2 separate regions of the Homo sapiens genome follow, and region 1 is linked to region 2. The links come from fine-mapping of genetic effects on gene expression. Tissue or cell type: whole blood. Region 2 holds a variant in brackets; the other region holds the start of a gene. All regions are shown on one strand. Distances are from middle to middle.

What was found. PIP is the estimated chance that this variant, and not a neighbour inherited with it, causes the effect.
Region 1: it holds the start of PPP1R13L, and the variant in region 2 is fine-mapped to the expression of PPP1R13L in whole blood (TOPMed, PIP above 0.99).

Annotation. Positions count from the first base shown.
Region 1 is chr19:45,400,614-45,408,697 of GRCh38, reverse strand. PPP1R13L (protein phosphatase 1 regulatory subunit 13 like) reads left to right here and starts at 3,629. Exons shown (of 13, transcript NM_006663.4): 1 at 3,629-3,699. It overlaps POLR1G (RNA polymerase I subunit G), which reads right to left and starts at 2,054. Exons shown (of 3, transcript NM_012099.3): 1 at 1,980-2,054; 2 at 1,463-1,604; 3 at 1-565. The coding sequence starts at 2,001. ERCC1 (ERCC excision repair 1, endonuclease non-catalytic subunit) reads left to right here. Exons shown (of 10, transcript NM_001983.4): 10 at 1-1,364. RefSeq lists enhancers at 2,778-2,977, 2,948-3,743 and silencers at 5,903-5,992, 6,033-6,282.
Region 2 is chr19:45,367,024-45,375,124 of GRCh38, reverse strand. ERCC2 (ERCC excision repair 2, TFIIH core complex helicase subunit) reads left to right here and starts at 4,552. Exons shown (of 23, transcript NM_000400.4): 1 at 4,552-4,589; 2 at 4,893-4,992; 3 at 5,978-6,055; 4 at 6,133-6,195; 5 at 6,382-6,495. The coding sequence starts at 4,585. RefSeq lists enhancers at 4,259-4,338, 4,957-5,798. The variant A/C (reference allele first, on the strand shown) is at 4,395.

The sequences.
Region 1 (8,084 bases), 34 kb before region 2:
TCCCAGAGGCTCCAGTGTCTCCACTGTGGGCTCTGTCCCCACAGGCCCTGCTGCCTCTGGTTCTTTCAGCTGCTGATTTTTTTTCTTCTTCTTCTTCCGCACATCCATTTCTGGCGACCCCAAAGCCATGTCCACCTCCAGGGCCCCGTGCCCATTCACTGCCTCCTGAGTGACTGGGGCCTCTGTCACCTGCATCTCCTTTTTCTTCTTCCCTGAGGTGAGCAGGTTGGGGGCCAAGGCTGACCTAGGCCCTGTGACTGGTGGGTTGCCCCCAAAGGCACAGAACCGAGGCCTCAGGCCAGGAGGGATCTGTGGTGGGGGACTTGCTGGGATGGGCTGCAGAGGGCTCCCTGACAGGGATTGCTGGGGACCCTCAAGGATCCTTAGGGTGCCCTGGGGGGCTGAGGCACAGGTGAGTCCACCTCCTGCCTCCGTTGAGGGGGCCAGCAGGGTCGCTTCTCCAGCTTGGGGACAGCTGCTGAGGACTCGATAGCGGTGCCGCTTGCCTGCCAATTTGCCCTTGACGATCTGGGAGCCAGAGAGAGGCACATGCCGCCCATTGAAGCTACAGAGAGAAACAGGGAGGGCAGAGGCTTAAGTGGAACAGGAGAGGGAAGGTTTTTTGATTTTTTTTTTGTTTTTTTTTGAGAGAGTCTTGCTCTGTTGCCTAGGCTGGAGTGCAGTGGCATGATCTCGGCTCACTGCAATGTCCACCTCCTGGGTTCAAGCGATTCTCCTGCCTCAGCCTCTCAAGTAGCTGGGATTACAGGCACCTGCCACCACGCCCAGCCAATTTTTGTATTTTTAGTAGAGACAATTTCACTATGTTGGCCAGGCTGGTCTTGAACTCCTGACCTCAAGTGATCTGCTCGCCTCGGCCTCCCAAAGGATGGGATTACAGGCACCAGCCACTGCGCCTGGCTGGCCTCTGGTTTTTAATAAAACATGACTAGAGTGACTCCATCTTAAAGTGAGTAGCTAGGCACTTACAAGGTTCATGCTTATGGCCTGAAAATAACCACATCCCAGGCTGACCACCAATTATAATTACAGAATATTTATGGCCATACAGAACATGTTCCACCAAGCCTGCAGAATGTCCAAATGTCCTAAGAATGCAGCCCCCATTACTTAAATATAACATAAATGAGCAAGCTTAGGTTGCAGGATTAATGGTCGTGGATAACACCAATAGCCCCTACCTTTAGTGAGCTTATCTGCACACTCCAAGTTTAACTATAGTTCCTTATAGTTTCTTATAAGTAGAAATACTAACAAAGGGCTGTGGGTTTCTCCCCCTGCTTTCTGAGGACACTCTACTCTGTAAAGGAGTAGTTTCCAATAAACTTGTTTCTTTCACTGTGCTCTGTGACTCACCTCTAATTCTTTCCTGTGACAAATTCAAGAACCCGCTCTTGGGGTCTGGACCGGGACCCTCTTTTCCGTCAACAAGACCACTCACCATTCTGGGGCAAAGTCTGCAGGGGCCTGAATAAGCCACAGCTCCGTATCTGGACCCGTCAGCGCCTCCAAGGAGAAACGAGGGGACTCTGAGGCTGGGGGCTTCGCGGTAAAGTTGGGGGGACAAGAGAACCGAGCAGCATCTGCAGCAGAAGGGGAAATGGGGTCGACTGACACCTCCTTGCCGGTCCAATCTTGCAGGGCGCGCCTATCGGTCCATTGGTCTTAACCTCGTGAGCACTCCAGTCCCCTCAACCTGGTTTCTCCTTTCTGCCCACCTGTTCCCCAGGGGCGACCTCAATTTCACCGATCCAACCCCTGGGGGCGCCTTGCTCTCCACGGGTAGCCCCCCACAAGATAACCCTCTCTCCGTTCGAATTCCCGTTCGCCCACTGGGAATGCACGCTCTTCGCAAGTCCTGCTTGCAGGTACGCCTCCTTTTCCGCCCGAACCCTCTCGGACGCCCCTTTCTCCTTCCACCAACGCACCCTCCGCACCCCGTCAACCCGCACCCTCACCGCCGGCCTGGGGCTCCTCCATCCTGGGACCCACACCTCAGGCAACCCTGTAGCCCGGGCTGCTCGCACCAGGTTGCAGACCACGTGGATCCAAAGGGGTAGGGCATCATCCGGGAGCGCCCAACTGGTGCGGGAGCGCGGGGGTAGGCATTGCTCGACTCCCGATCTGCAGGAAAAACTGGGGAAAATTTCAACGTGTGCAGAGCAGAAAACCGAGGAAGAAGTCTTTTTCCGAAAAATGTATTCCCGAAAGCCGCTGATTCGCTGTATTGCTGGAGTCAGAGGCCCGTCGGGTCCCGATGGGTCGCCCCCATCGTCTGTCCAATATGGTTTGTTGCAACGCCTCCTTAAAGGGGCAGCCACACTGCTCTTCCTAAGCCTTAAAGAGACAGGACGGTCGATTGGTCTGAAATTCTTGAAGAGACAGGTAAGAATACTAGTTAGTAGGGCTGTGCTTTCTGTGTTAAATGTCTTCTGGGGAGGCCCAGATGCCTCACAAGTTCAGAACTTGACTGGGAGAAGCGGGAAAATGGAGAAATAGGGGCAATCCGTCCGGAGGGCGTGAAGTTCCAGCCAGGGGCGGGGCTTCTGGACTCCGGGGGAGCGGGAAACATAGGGGGAGGAGCTTGTGGTTCTCGAGGGCGGAGCCTCGGACCCAGGAGCCCCACACGCGTGGAGTGGTGCTGGGCACGGTGTAGCGTTTGTGGATCAAATGGGACTTGTAGATGCCCTCGGGGGTTTAGTCTCATGCGTGGGAAACCTCGATGACTTTCAGGAAGGGACCTGATCGGCGACTCCTCCCTGCCCCAGGGAGCGTGTAAACAGCGGCACGTGGACACAGATTTGGGGGACGCACCCACTTCCCTTCCCACTGGGGCCGCCCCGCGTTGGGCGGCGGTTGGAGCCGCGAGACGGTGGCTAGACAGGGTGACCCGACTGCATTCCTGGCCAGTGTGTCAGCGCCACTTCCCGCCCCCTCTGCCAAGATTTAGGATCCTACTCCAGAATTGGGGCACCCCTTCTCCCCAGGTGGGAGAGGCTTTCCAGAGCGGAGGGAGGGTCAAGGGGAAGGGGAAATGTTTCCCCTATCCAGGATCTCCAGACGGTTTCCTTCGCGTGGGCGAGAGAGACACCGGGGTGCAGCCCCTGCGGGCTCCAGGACTACAATTCCCACAGGACCCGAGGCAAAGAGTCGCCCGAGGGCGGTCGCGGAGGCTGCTGGGGGTTGTAGTCCAAACTAAGATTTTGAACTCTTGCTGGGACATCCTTTGAAGATCCAACCCGCGCTTTTTATCGACGGGGAGATTCGGGCTCAGAGACCCTGGGGGATACTGATCAGGAAAGGGGATAGTGCGCCTGAAGGGGTGGGGCAAGGGCTCAGGAGTCAGTCTCCAGCCACAGCGAGGCAGGCGTCTCGGCTCTTCTGTATCTCCCTGGCCTGGTCGCTCTCGGCTTCTGGGCCTCGCCCTTCCTGTCTGTGAAATGGACTCTGGGTGAATCCAAATGGGATCGTCTTGGGCTACGTCCTGTCCCTCCGGGACTACAAGTCCCAAGGTGCTCGAGGCGACCTTGGCTCCCCCTCCCCACCGGGACCCGCCTCCCTCCAGCCCAAGTCACGTCGTCTAACCTGTTCCCAGCTCCTGCCCCGCCCCGTTCTCCGCTCCCCAAGCCGGAGCCCGAGCTGGAGGAAGCCCCCAGGTGCCAGGATCTGCCCGGATCCGTGAGTTTCACCCTCCTGGGGACCAGAGGCCCTGAAAAAGCCCAACACCCGCGTCCCTGGGAGGATTGGGAGGGGACTCGGACGCCAGGTCCCAGGGCGGAATTTGGGGCGCGCCGACACCTGGATCCTTAGAAGGAAACTCCGTTGCCTGTTTTACTGGAGGGAAGGAAAGCGGGTTCGGATGCCTGAATTCTTGGAATGGAGGGATTCTACCCCTTCATCCCGGGGAGACGTTGGAGCTGGAATTCCTGAGTCCCTCGAACTGGGGGGCTCTAGGAAGCCGAGTCTTTGGGTAGTATAGGGGTTCGAATCCCCGAGTCTTGGTCAGAAATGAGAGGCTCAGACTGGTGGGGCTCAAGGTGGAATGGGTGACCACCCTGCCAGCCTCAAGCTGCTGTCTCGACCGATCTTCTAGGTCTCTGAGCAGAATTAAGGGTGGGGCAGGGATAGTGGAGCCTGGGTTCCTGAAGTGGAGCAGGACAGGTACCCGGGGTCCCTCCGGAGGCTGTGTCCCGGCTCTCCCCCGACTTTTCGGCTCGGGGATGGGGGCGGGGTAGGAGAGAAAACACCGAGGCAGATCTCCAACCTCCTCTGTGCCGCTGAGCGAACCCAACATGTCATTAACCTGGGCGTCAGACCTGCCTAACCAGAGAAGGGACATCCGCCCTAGGGCACCCCCTGGCGGAGGTGGGCTCCCCTATTGCCTTATGGGGTGGGAAACAGCTGGGTTTGCAGAGGTAGTTCTAGAACCCAGGGCAGAATTCCGGAAAGCGGCTATTGGATTCTGGGAGGTTTGCATAGCCGGGCATTTAACCATTACACGGAGAGGAAGGGGTAAACTGAGGCTTGGAGCTCACACAGGCAGTAGAGTTTGTAGGGTCAGGATTCTGCCTCCTCCTTCTTCTGCAGCTCTCTGGGGGACGGGATTCCATCCGCCCCCGCCAGATTTTCTGACTAACCTTCTGCCTCAGGGCTCCTTGCCCTGACCCTGAGGTGAGAAATGTCACCTCCACGCCCATCTGTCTGACCTGGGGTATTGTGGGAGATAAGGGAGGGACAGAGGCTAATTCTGGAGGTGTCTGTCTGTCCTTGAGGCGGGGGGAGGGCAGGACCAGGCACCTCCCTCTGTCTATCTCCCCGTTCTCTCCACCCCCATGCGTCCTAAGAAGGGGGATTAAAAACAGAATGGGGGAGGCGAGCATCTGATGAGAGAGGAGTGTTTCCCAATGTCTGGGCTTGAAGGGCATTTGATGATAACCTGAAATGAAATTAAAAATAATAACCGTGGTTGCCAAAACAGGGCTCTGGGTGTACCAAGCTCAGAGCTGGTAGGTAGGTAGGTAGGAAAGCTCGCATTGTCTAGAGGAATCTTGGGTGACTGAGAGGTCTCCCTTTGAATAAGGTTTGCTGACCCCAGGGAAGGACTCCTCATTACGAGTGGAGAAACGGAGGCTGGAGAGTGGATATTGCCCACACCCTGGGCTTTTGCCAGCTTCTGTCTGGAATCTTCCAGGGCTCTCCCAGCCCTCCCGTCCCTAAGTGACTGAGGGTGATCACTGGCCAGACTCAGGAATGTACAGGGGAAATTTAGGACTCTGAGAGGCAAGGGCTCAGGAAGTTGAGACCCTGGGTGTCAAAACTCAGGGCTTGTATGATCTCAGAAAGAGTTGAAAGGGCCCTTTTAGGGGAAAAAAAAATTACATTGAGTCTGGACCCCTCACTCTGTTGCCAGACCCTGTGTTATTATAATGAACAGCCAAGGACATCTGGTAATTATGAATCCTGTATGTGTGAACTTTATTTCGCGCACTGCATTGTTCTAATCACGGCTTATAAATTATGTCACTCAATCCTCATACCCCTTTGAGGCGAAGGTATTAATTCTTCCCATGGTCCACATGAGGAAACAGGCACAGAGAAGCTAAATAACAAGCCCAAGTAGAGGCTTAGAGCAAGAAAGGCCCTAGCCCATTCCATAGACGTCCACAAAGGAGGAAACCGAGTCCCAGAGACAGTGGAGCCTCTCCAGATTCAGTGTGACCCGACAGGGCTGTAGGAGTCCAGCCTGGGTGTTCCCAGCTCAGTCTGGCTCTCTGACCCGGTTCCTACTGAAGATGACTCCTCCAGGAAGTCCACAGGATCCTTAGCCCTAAAGAACCTGGCTGGGGTGCAGAGGAGGCCAGGGAAGGAGAGCCAGGGGTGGAGCGGAGAGAGGAGCCCAGGGGAGAGTACCTGCGGCTGGCCCAGAGCCCGCGGGAGAGCTCGGAGCTAGAGCTAGAGGGGAGCACATGGGAGAGGACTCGGAGGCAGAGGTCAGGGGCAGAGGCCTGGGAACAGACACACGGCCCGCGCCACCCCCGCGCCCCGCCCTTGTACCCCGCCCGGCCCAGCTCCCTTGCCCCGGGATGTACAGCACCTGCCCGGGCCCGCTGCGCATTCCCCGGGCCTGAGCTCAGGCGCAGTCCGCCCTCCTGGCGGGGGTCCGGGCGTGACCGCCCCCTGGTGGCTCCGACGTCCCCACCGCCTGTCCCCGCGACAGCCCCACACCCAGGGTTGGCATTTCCTGAGAGCCAGAGAATGTCAGTATGGAATCTGAGAATCTTGGAAATTTGGGGATCATGGCGCCGTGGCTCACGCCTGTAATCCCAATACTTTGGGAGATCGAGCCGGGGAGGATCCCATGAGGCTAGGAGTTCGAGACCAGCCTAACCACAGGCGCGAGAGAGACTAAATCTCTACCAAAAGAAAAAAAAAGAGTCACTTACAGCTGGCATTAGGGCTGCACAGACTTGCTCATTTATCTATTTTAACAGTTAACAAAGTATTGTTTGTGTATCTCTGAAATTCTAAATGCCCGAGTTTTTATTCCTGTAGTCTCTTCTTCCTGAGGCCTCAATTCTCAGAGCTCTGAATTCTTCCTGCACCTTCTGACCAGGTGGATTCTTACAGTAGTCCTATGAGGTGAACTTTCATCCCCATTTTACGGATTACGAGACTGAGGTACTGTGGTCAGGGTTGGACGGTGGTGCTGCCAGATTTGATGATTTTATTTTAATTTTTTTTAAGAAATGGGGTCTCATTGTGTTGGCCATGTTGGTCTTGAACTCCTGGCCTCAAGTGATCCTCCCCCCTCGGCCTCCCAAAGTGCAAGGATTACAGGCAGAAGCTACCATGCCCGGCCCTCAGATTTGAATTTTTGAAGTCTGACTTCTTACTCATGCTTTTACCAGCTGCACTATACCATCCATCTAGACTTCCAGAGCAGTGCAACCCTGGGTTAGGTAGAATGTGGTACAGAAAGACTCAGAATTCTGGGTTAGACAAATTGGAGAATTCTAGAATGTTCCAAAGATAGAATCTTGGACTCAGAACTTTCCAACAATAGGCTCTTTAGCTGAGGGGTTTAGGCTCTGTAGAACTTTAGTTACAGTCCTAAGGTCCTTACAGTTTGAAAGTCTGGGGCTCATAGAGATTAAAGGGGCCTTTCAGAATAGCTGATTTGGCCAGGTGTGGTGGCTCATGCCTGTAATCTCAGCACTTTGGGAGGCTGAGGCGGGAGGATTGCTTGAGCCCAGGAGTTCAAAACCAGCCTGAGCAACAAAGTGAGACCCCTGTCTCTACAAATTTTTTTTTTTTTTTTTTTTGGGACGGAGTCTCGCTCTGTCTCCGAGGCTGGAGTGCAGTGGCGCGATCTCGGCTCACTGAAAGCTCCGCCTCCCTGGTTCACACCATTCTCCTGCCTCAGCCTCCCGAGTAGCTGGGACTACAGGCGCCCGCCACCACGCCCAGCTAATTTTTTTGTATTTTTTAGTAGAGACAGGGTTTCACCGTGTTAGCCAGGATGGTCTCGAGCTCCTGACCTCGTGATCCTCCCGCCTTAGCCTCCCAAAGTGTACAAAATGTTTTTAAAAAATTAGCTGGGTGGCCGGGCGCGGTGGCTCACGCCTGTAATCCCAGCACTTTGGGAGGCCGAGGCGGGCGGATCATGAGGTCAGGAGATCGAGACCATCCCGGCTAAAATGGTGAAACCCCGTCTCTACTAAAAATACAAAAAATTAGCCGGGCGTAGTGGCGGGCGCCTGTAGTCCCAGCTACTTGGGAGGCTGAGGCGGGAGAATGGCGTGAACCCGGGAGGCGGAGCTTGCAGTGAGCCGAGATCCCGCCACTGAACTCCAGCCTGGGCGACAGAGCAAGACTCCGTCTCAAAAAAAAAAAAAAAAAAAAAAAAAAAAAAAAAATTAGCTGGGTGTGGTGGTGCGAGGCTATACCTATAGTCTCAGCTACTCAGGAGGCTGAGGTGGGAGGACCACTTGAGCTGGGAGGTCAAGAGGCTGTAGTGAGTCACAATTGTAGCCTGGGTTACAGAGCGAGACCCTATCTCAAAA
Region 2 (8,101 bases):
CTTTTATGCAACAGTGCTTGTCAGGGTCCTTCCATCCTTTCTCTCTTTCTCCCTTTCTCTCTCTCTCTCTGTCTCTTTCTCTCTTTCTCTCTTTCCTTCTTTCTTCCTTTCTGAGACGGAGTCTGTTGCCCAGGATGGAGAGCAATGGCGCGATCTTGGCTTACTGCAACCTCTACCTCCCAGGTTCAAGCCATTCTCCAGCCTCAGCCTCCCAAGTAGCTGGGACTACAGACATGTGTCACCACGCCCGGCTAATTTTTGTATTTTTAGTAGAGATGAGGTTTCACCATGTTGGCCAGGCTGGTCTCCAACTCCTGACCTCAAGTGATCCGCCCGCCTCGGCCTCACAAAGTGCTGGGATTATAGGCGTGAGCCATCACTCCTGCCATGGAGCTGACTTTTGTTTTTTTCGAGACAGAGTTTCACTCTTGTTGCCCAGGCTGGAGTGCAATGGCGCGATCTCGGCTCAGCGTTAACCTCTGCCTCCCAGGTTCAAGCGATTCTCCTGCTTCAGCCTTCTGAGTAGTTGGGATTACAGGCATGCGACACCACACCCAGCTAATTTTTGCATTTTTAATAGAGATGAGGTTTCACCGTGTTGGTCAGGCTGGTCTGGAACTCCTGACCTCACATGATCCACCTGTTCCAGCCTCCCAAAGTGCTGGGATTACAGGCGTGAGCCCCCGCGCCCAGCCAGGAGCTTTCTAAACAAAATAAATAAGTAAAATATTCAGCATGTCACATGGTTAAATGAGCTCTCAAGAACAATAAAGCAGGGAAAGGGGATATAGTGTGTGTGTGTGTGTGTGTGTGCGTGCGTGCGTGTGTGTGTGTGCGTGCGTGCGTGCGTGTGTGTGTGTGTCTAGGAGGTAGATTTAATTTGGTGGTCAGGAAGCCCTCATTGAGAAGGAGACTTTTTTTTTTTTGAGACAGAGTCTTGCTTTGTCACCCAGGCTGGAGTACAGTGGCATGATCTTGGCTCACTGCAGCCTCTGCCTCCCGGGTTCCAGCAATTCTCCTGCCTCAGCCTCCCGGGTAGCTAGGATTACTGGTATGTGCTACCATGCTTTGCCAATTTTTGTATTTTTAGTAGAGACGGGATTTCACCATCTTGGCCAGGCTGGTCTCGAACTCCTGATCTCAGGTGATCTGCCCACCTCAGCCTCCCAAAGTGGTAGGATTACAGGTGTGAGCCACCATGCCGGGCCGAGAAGTTGACAATTGAGCAAAGAGCTGAGGGAGGTGAGTGTGTCAGCCACATGGCTATCAGGGGAAACAGCATTCCAGGCAGACAAAATAGCTGGTGCAAAGGCCCTGAGATGGGATGTGCTTGTTATGTTTTAGAGACAGCAAGGAGACCAGCATAGCTGAAACAAAATGAGCTGGGGGAGAGAGAGGAGGAGATCAGAGCAGTAAGGTGGGTTGGTATGGGGATGATGAGCAGTAAGCTAGTTACAGAGGACTCTGTAGGTGACAGTAAAGATTTTGGATCTGGGCTGGATGCAGAGGCTCACGCTTGTAATCCCAGTACTTTGGGAGGCTGAGGGAACAGGATGGCTTGAGCCCAATACCAGCCTGGGCAACATAGCGAGACCCTGTCAATAACAAAATATATTTTCTTCCTGTAGGAGATAGAAAAGTAAACATAAAAAAATTTATGTAAATAAATTAAGCCGGGCACAGTGGCTCACGTCTGTAATCCCACCACTTTGGGAGGCTGAGGTGGGAGAATTGCTTGAGCTCAGGAGTTCAACCAGCCTGGACAACATAGTGAGATACCCTCGTCTCTACAAAAAATTAAAAAAAATTAACCAGGCGTGGTGTCGTGTACCCGCAGTCCCAGCTACTCAGGAGGCTGAGGTGGGAGGATCACTTGAGCCCTGGAGGTCAAGGTGGCAATGAGCCAAATTCACACCACCATACTCCAGGCTGGGACAGAGCAAGACTCTGTCTCCAAAAATACAGCCGGGAAGGGTGGCTCACACCTGTAATCCCAGCACTTTGGGAGGCTGAAGTGGGTGGATCTTTTGAGGTCAGGAGTTTGAGGCCAGCCTGGCCAACATAGTGAAACCCCGTTTCTACTAAAAGTATAAAAATTAGCTGGGCAGTAGTGGTGCGCACCTGTAATCCCAGCTACTAGGGAGGCTGAGGCCAGAGAATTGCTTGAGCCTGGGTGGCAGAGGTTGCGGTGCGCTGAGATTGTGCCACTGTACTCCAGTCTGGGCGAAAGAGTGAGACCTTGTCTCAAAAATAAATAAATTAAGAATTAATTAATTTAAAAAAGAGATTTCGATCTGCCCCTGCCTTCCCCTCCAGCTGCCCTTTCTCTGCTCCCTGTGCTCAACTCAGAGCTCCACCCCCACAGGCTTCCTTTCAGCACTCACAGGCCTCAGCTTTCTTCTGGCCTAGAGCTTTTGTGTATGATGGTCTCTCTCCCTGGAACACCTTTCTCACTTCTCTCATCCATCCCCTCTTGCTGGTTGATCTCTTCTAATTATTTTCTGGCTCTACTCAAACCTCGCTTCTTCCACGAAGCCTTCTCTGATCACTTGGCCAACACTCACACCCCACAGTTGACAGTAGACATCCTGTCATAATAAGTCTTTTTTTTTTTTCTTTTTCTGGGACGGAGTCTTGCTCTGTCACGCAGGCTGGAGTGCAGTGGCGTGATCTTGGCTCACTTCTGCCTCCTGGGTTCAAGCAATTCTCCTGCTTTAGCCTCCCGAGTAGATGGGATTACAGATGCATGCCACTATGCCTGGCTTTTTTTTTTTTTTTTTTTTTTTTAGTAGAGATAGGGTTTCACCATGTTGACCAGGCTGGTCTTGAACTCCTGACCTCGTGATCCATCTGCCTTGGCCTCCCAAAGTGCTGGGATTACAGGCATGAGCCACTGCACCCAGCCCATAATCAATCTTTATGGTGACTTGAAGTTTTCCTTCACAGCACTTTTGTACTTGTGATTATACACGTGCGCACACACACACACACACACACACACACACACATTTGAGATAGGTTTTCACTCCTGTTGCCCAGGCTGGAGTGCAGTGGCACAATCACTGCCCATTGCAACCTCTGCCTCCCAGGCCCAGGTGATTCTCCCACCTCAGCCTCCTGAGTATCTGGGACTACAGGTGCACGCCACCACGCCCAGCTAATTTTTGCATTTTTTGTAGAGACGGGTTTTCACCATGTTGCCCAGGCTGGTCTCTAGCTCCTGAGCTCAAGCAATGTACTCGCCTTGGCCTTCCAAAGTGTTGGAACCACAGGCACGAGCCACCACTCCAGGCTGTAATCATATATTCATTTGTATATTTAATATCTGTTCTTTGAGGCCAGGCCTGGTGCCTCACCCCTGTAATCCCAACAATTTGAAAGGCTGAGGGGAGAGGATCACTTGAACCTGCGAGTTTAACCAGCCTGGGCAACGTGGTGAGACCTCGTCTCTAAAAAAATTTAAAAAATAAAACTTAGCTGGGCTTGGTGGTGCACACCTGTGGTCCCAGCTACTCTGGAAGCTGAGGTGGGAGGATCGCTTGAGCCCAAGAGGTGGAGGCTGCAGTGAGCTGTGACTGTGCCACTGCACTCCAGCCTTGGCGACAGAGAAAGACCCTGTCTCAAGGAAAAAAATCTGTTCTTTGAGGGCAGGTGCTGAGGCTGTCATGGTCACCTTTCTGTTCCCAGGGGCCAGCACAGGATCAGACACATGGTAGATGCCACATAGCTATTTGTTGAAGAAACAAACAAAAGCTAGCATTTATGTTTTATTTATTAGTTATTATTATTAATATTTGAAATGGAGTTTCGCTTTTGTTGCCCAGGCTAGAGTGCGACGGCGCCATCTCTGCTCACTGCAACCTCTGCCTCCCAGGTTCAAGCAATTCTCCTGCTTCAGCCTCCCGAGTAGCTGGGATTACAAGCATTTGCCAGCACGCCCGGCTAATTTTGTATCTTTAGTAGAGACAGGTTTTCTCCATGTTGGTCAGGCTGGTCTTGAACTCCCGACCTCAGGTGATCCACCTGCCTCAGCCTCCCAAAGTGCTGGGATTACAGGCTTGAGCCACCGCGCCCGGCCTGCAAAGCCATTTCTAACTCTTGGGCCCAGAAAGGATCACCAATTTCCCTGTCATTCTCCGTTAGACTATTCGCTACTGAGACGATTTTTTTTTTTTTTTGAGACGAGGTGGAGGGGCGGGGGTTCTCGCTATCTTGCTCAAGCTGATCTCGAACTCCTGGGTTCGATCAATACTCAGACAATCTTGGCAGGCGCAGGAGGACCAAATTCTAGTGAATGAGATCGAGTCTCTCGGCTCTTTCCCTTCCATGTTTTCTTTTTGATTGGCCCTCGACGATCCTCAGTGACGCCTCCCGCACCGCCTCACCCGAGAGTC[A/C]GCCGCCCTCGCTTTTCCGTGCGCACGCGCAGTATCCCGATTGGCTCTGCCCTAGCGGATTGACGGGCAGGTTAGCCAATGGTCTCGTAATATAGGTGGAGCGAGCCCTCGAGGATGTCCACGACCCGGCCTCTCGCTGAATATTCATGAGGGAGGCGGGTCGACCCCGCTGCACAGTCCGGCCGGCGCCATGAAGTGAGAAGGGGGCTGGGGGTCGCGCTCGCTAGCGGGCGCGGGGGGTCTTGAAGATGGGGTCATCGGTGGGCGCGCCTGGGTCCCCAAGGGGGCGAGGGGAGGGTGAAGGGGTGGGACGGGGGCAGCCGCAGGGAGCAGCAGTGATAGCGAGGAGACACTGAGGGGGCCCCGAGGCTCCTGAGGACCTGAGGGTTACCGGGGGCGCCGGGCCCGTCACCCTTCTCTGGGCTCGACGACCGGGCACTGTGGAGGCGGGAGAGGGGCTGAGGGGACGGGAACTGACCCAGCAGCCCCTGCCGCCAGGCTCAACGTGGACGGGCTCCTGGTCTACTTCCCGTACGACTACATCTACCCCGAGCAGTTCTCCTACATGCGGGAGCTCAAACGCACGCTGGACGCCAAGGTGGGTGGCCGGTGGGCCCGACCCGCCCACTCGACCGGTGGGGCTGCCACGCCTGGGCCTAAGACAGATTGCAGGACGTCTGGATTTTAGAAGTCCGAGGTCCCTGGGAATCCAGGACCCCATAATCTTCCGTTATCTAAAACAATAATGGTGAATAGGCTGGGCGCGGTGGCTCGCGCCTGTAATCCCAGAGCTTTGGGAGGACGAGGCGGGCGGATCACTTGAGGTCAGGAGTTGGAGACCAGCCTGGCCAACACGGTGAAACCCCGTCTGTACTAAAAATACAAAAATTAGCCAGGTGTGGTGGCGGGCGCCTGTAATCCCACCTACTCGGGAGGCTGAGGCAGGAGGATCGCTTGAGGCCAGGAGTTGGAGGCTGCAGTGAGCCATGATTGTGCCACTGCATTCCAGCCTGGGCAATAGTGACACTTGTCTCTTAAAAAAGAAGGGAGAAAAGTTCACTATATATCAGCTACTGTGCCAAATATTTAACCTGCAATTTCTCACAATCCTCATAGTCATGTTATGAGGAAGGTTTTATTATTAGGCCCATTTTATTTTATTTATTTATTTTTGAGATTGAATTACAGGTGCGCGCCACCACATCTGGCTAATTTTTTGTATTTTTAGTAGAGACGGGGTTTCACCTTGTTGGCCCAGCTGGTCTTGAACTTCTGACCTCAGGTGGTTCACCTGCCTCAGCCTCCCAAAGTGCTGGGATTACAGGTGTGAGCCACCACGCCTGGCTTTAGGCTCATTTTAGAGATAGGGATACTGAGGTCTGGGGAGGTGAAGGTACTTGCCTAAGACCACTCAACAAGGAGGAGGCAGAAGTGAGGTTCAAACCCACTGCCCAATCTTAACTGCTGCTGTGTTATCCTGCTGTTCTGAGTTGGTGGCATTGGGGGTCGGGGAGAGTCCCCAGAGTTTGTGTGCCCAAGGTTCTGAGACCCTGTGTGTTGCCCCTCTGGTCCCCAACATGCAGGGTCATGGAGTCCTGGAGATGCCCTCAGGCACCGGGAAGACAGTATCCCTGTTGGCCCTGATCATGGCATACCAGAGAGTGAGTGATGCGCTGAACCCGTAAAGGCAGACAAAGGAAGGGGCGGGACAGGGACTGAGTCCGCTTGTTATCGGCAGGCATATCCGCTGGAGGTGACCAAACTCATCTACTGCTCAAGAACTGTGCCAGAGATTGAGAAGGTAAGCTGGGACTCATCCTGGTGCTCCAGCCCCACTGTTCCCTAGGCCCTATTGGTCCCCCTGGCGGTGGCCGTCACCAGCTTTCGGGGGTGTTTGGGAAGCTGGGGAAGAGACTGGGACCTGGCAGGGCAGGGGTTTGTGCCTCCAATGAGCACAAGCTCCCCCTGCCCCCCAACTTTGGAGTAGGTGATTGAAGAGCTTCGAAAGTTGCTCAACTTCTATGAGAAGCAGGAGGGCGAGAAGCTGCCGTTTCTGGGACTGGCTCTGAGCTCCCGCAAAAACTTGTGTATTCACCCTGAGGTGAGCACCTGTTCCTTCTCCTTGCCCTTAGCCCAGAGGTAGAGAAAACTCTTTCGTCCAACCACAAGTCCTGGATCCCCAGGCCATATCTCTTGCAAAGGCATGCAGTGGCTACACACAGAATTCCCGTCTCAGTGGTCAAATTCTCATTCATCGTGGCCCAGGCAAGCACACTTCCTCCAGGGAGTCTTCAAATTCTACCCAGGCCTAGGAGAGGTTAAAAAGGCAGCTCTTAGAGTCTCTGGCAAGCCTGGTTTCCTGGCTCTGAAACTTACTAGCCCAGTATTTATGGAGAGGCATTTTCTGCCACCTGGGCCTCAGTCTTCCTTTCTGTAAAATGGGGATAATTATGTACCTGCTTCATAAGGTTGCTGATGATAAAATTGGGTGAAATGTTGCAGCCGATGCCCTTAGCATGTACAAAGAGCTAAAAGAATGTTAGAAATTCTCATGATAGGCCAGGTGCAGTGGTTCACGCTTGTAGTCCCAGCACTTTGGGAGTCTGAGGTGGGCAGATCATTTGAGGTCAGGAGTTCGAGACCATCCTGGCCAACACGGCGAAACCCCATTTCTACTAAAAATACAAAAATTAGCCGGGGGTGGTGGTGTACACGTCGGTAATGCCAATCGCTTGTACCCAGGAGGCAGAGGTTGCAGTGAGCTGAGGTCATGCCACTGCATTCCAGCCTGGGTGACAGAGTGAGACTCTGTCTTAAAAAAAAAAAAAAAGAAATTGTCATGATATTTATATGCATAATGATATATGACAAATACAATATTAGTTATCATTAAATTATGCTATAAAATCATTGTACTTGGCTGGGCATGGTGACTCACGACTATAATCCCAGCACTTTGGGAGGCCGAGGCGGGTGGACACCTGAGGTCGGGAGTTTGAGACCAGCCTGGCCAATATGGAGAAACCCCGTCTCTACTGAAAAAAAATTGAAAAATTAGCTGGGCACATGCCTGTAATCCCAGCTACTTGGGAGGCTGAGACAGGAGAATTGCTCGAACTCCCGAGGGGGAGGTTGCAGTGAGCCGAGATCGCGCCACTGCACTCCAGCCTGGGCAACAAGAGTGAAACTCCGTCTCAAAAAAAAAAAAAAATTGTACTCACTGTGTGCCAGGCACTGTTCTGAATACTTTACATGTGGTAACCCACAGAATGTATATATGTGTATATATTATACTTACATATATATGTGTGTGTATATATGTTTTTATATGTGTGTGTGTGTGTGTGTGTGTGTGTGTGTGTATATATATATATATTTTTGTTTTGTTTTGTTTTTGAGACGGAGTCTCACTCTGTCACCCAGCCTGGAGTGCAGGGGAGTGATCTTGGCTTACTACAAGCTCCGCCTCCCGGGTTCAAGCAATTCTCCTGCCTCAGCCTCCTGAGTAGCTAGGATTACAGGTGCCCCACTACACCCGGCTAATTTGTGTGTTTTTAGTAGAGACGGTGTTTCACCATGTTGGTTAGGCTGGTCTCTAACTCCCGACCTTGTGATCCTCCCGCCTCAGCCTCCCAAAGTGCTGGGATTACAGGCATGAGCCATCGTGCCCAGCCTTATTTATTATTATTATTTTTGAAATGGAGTTT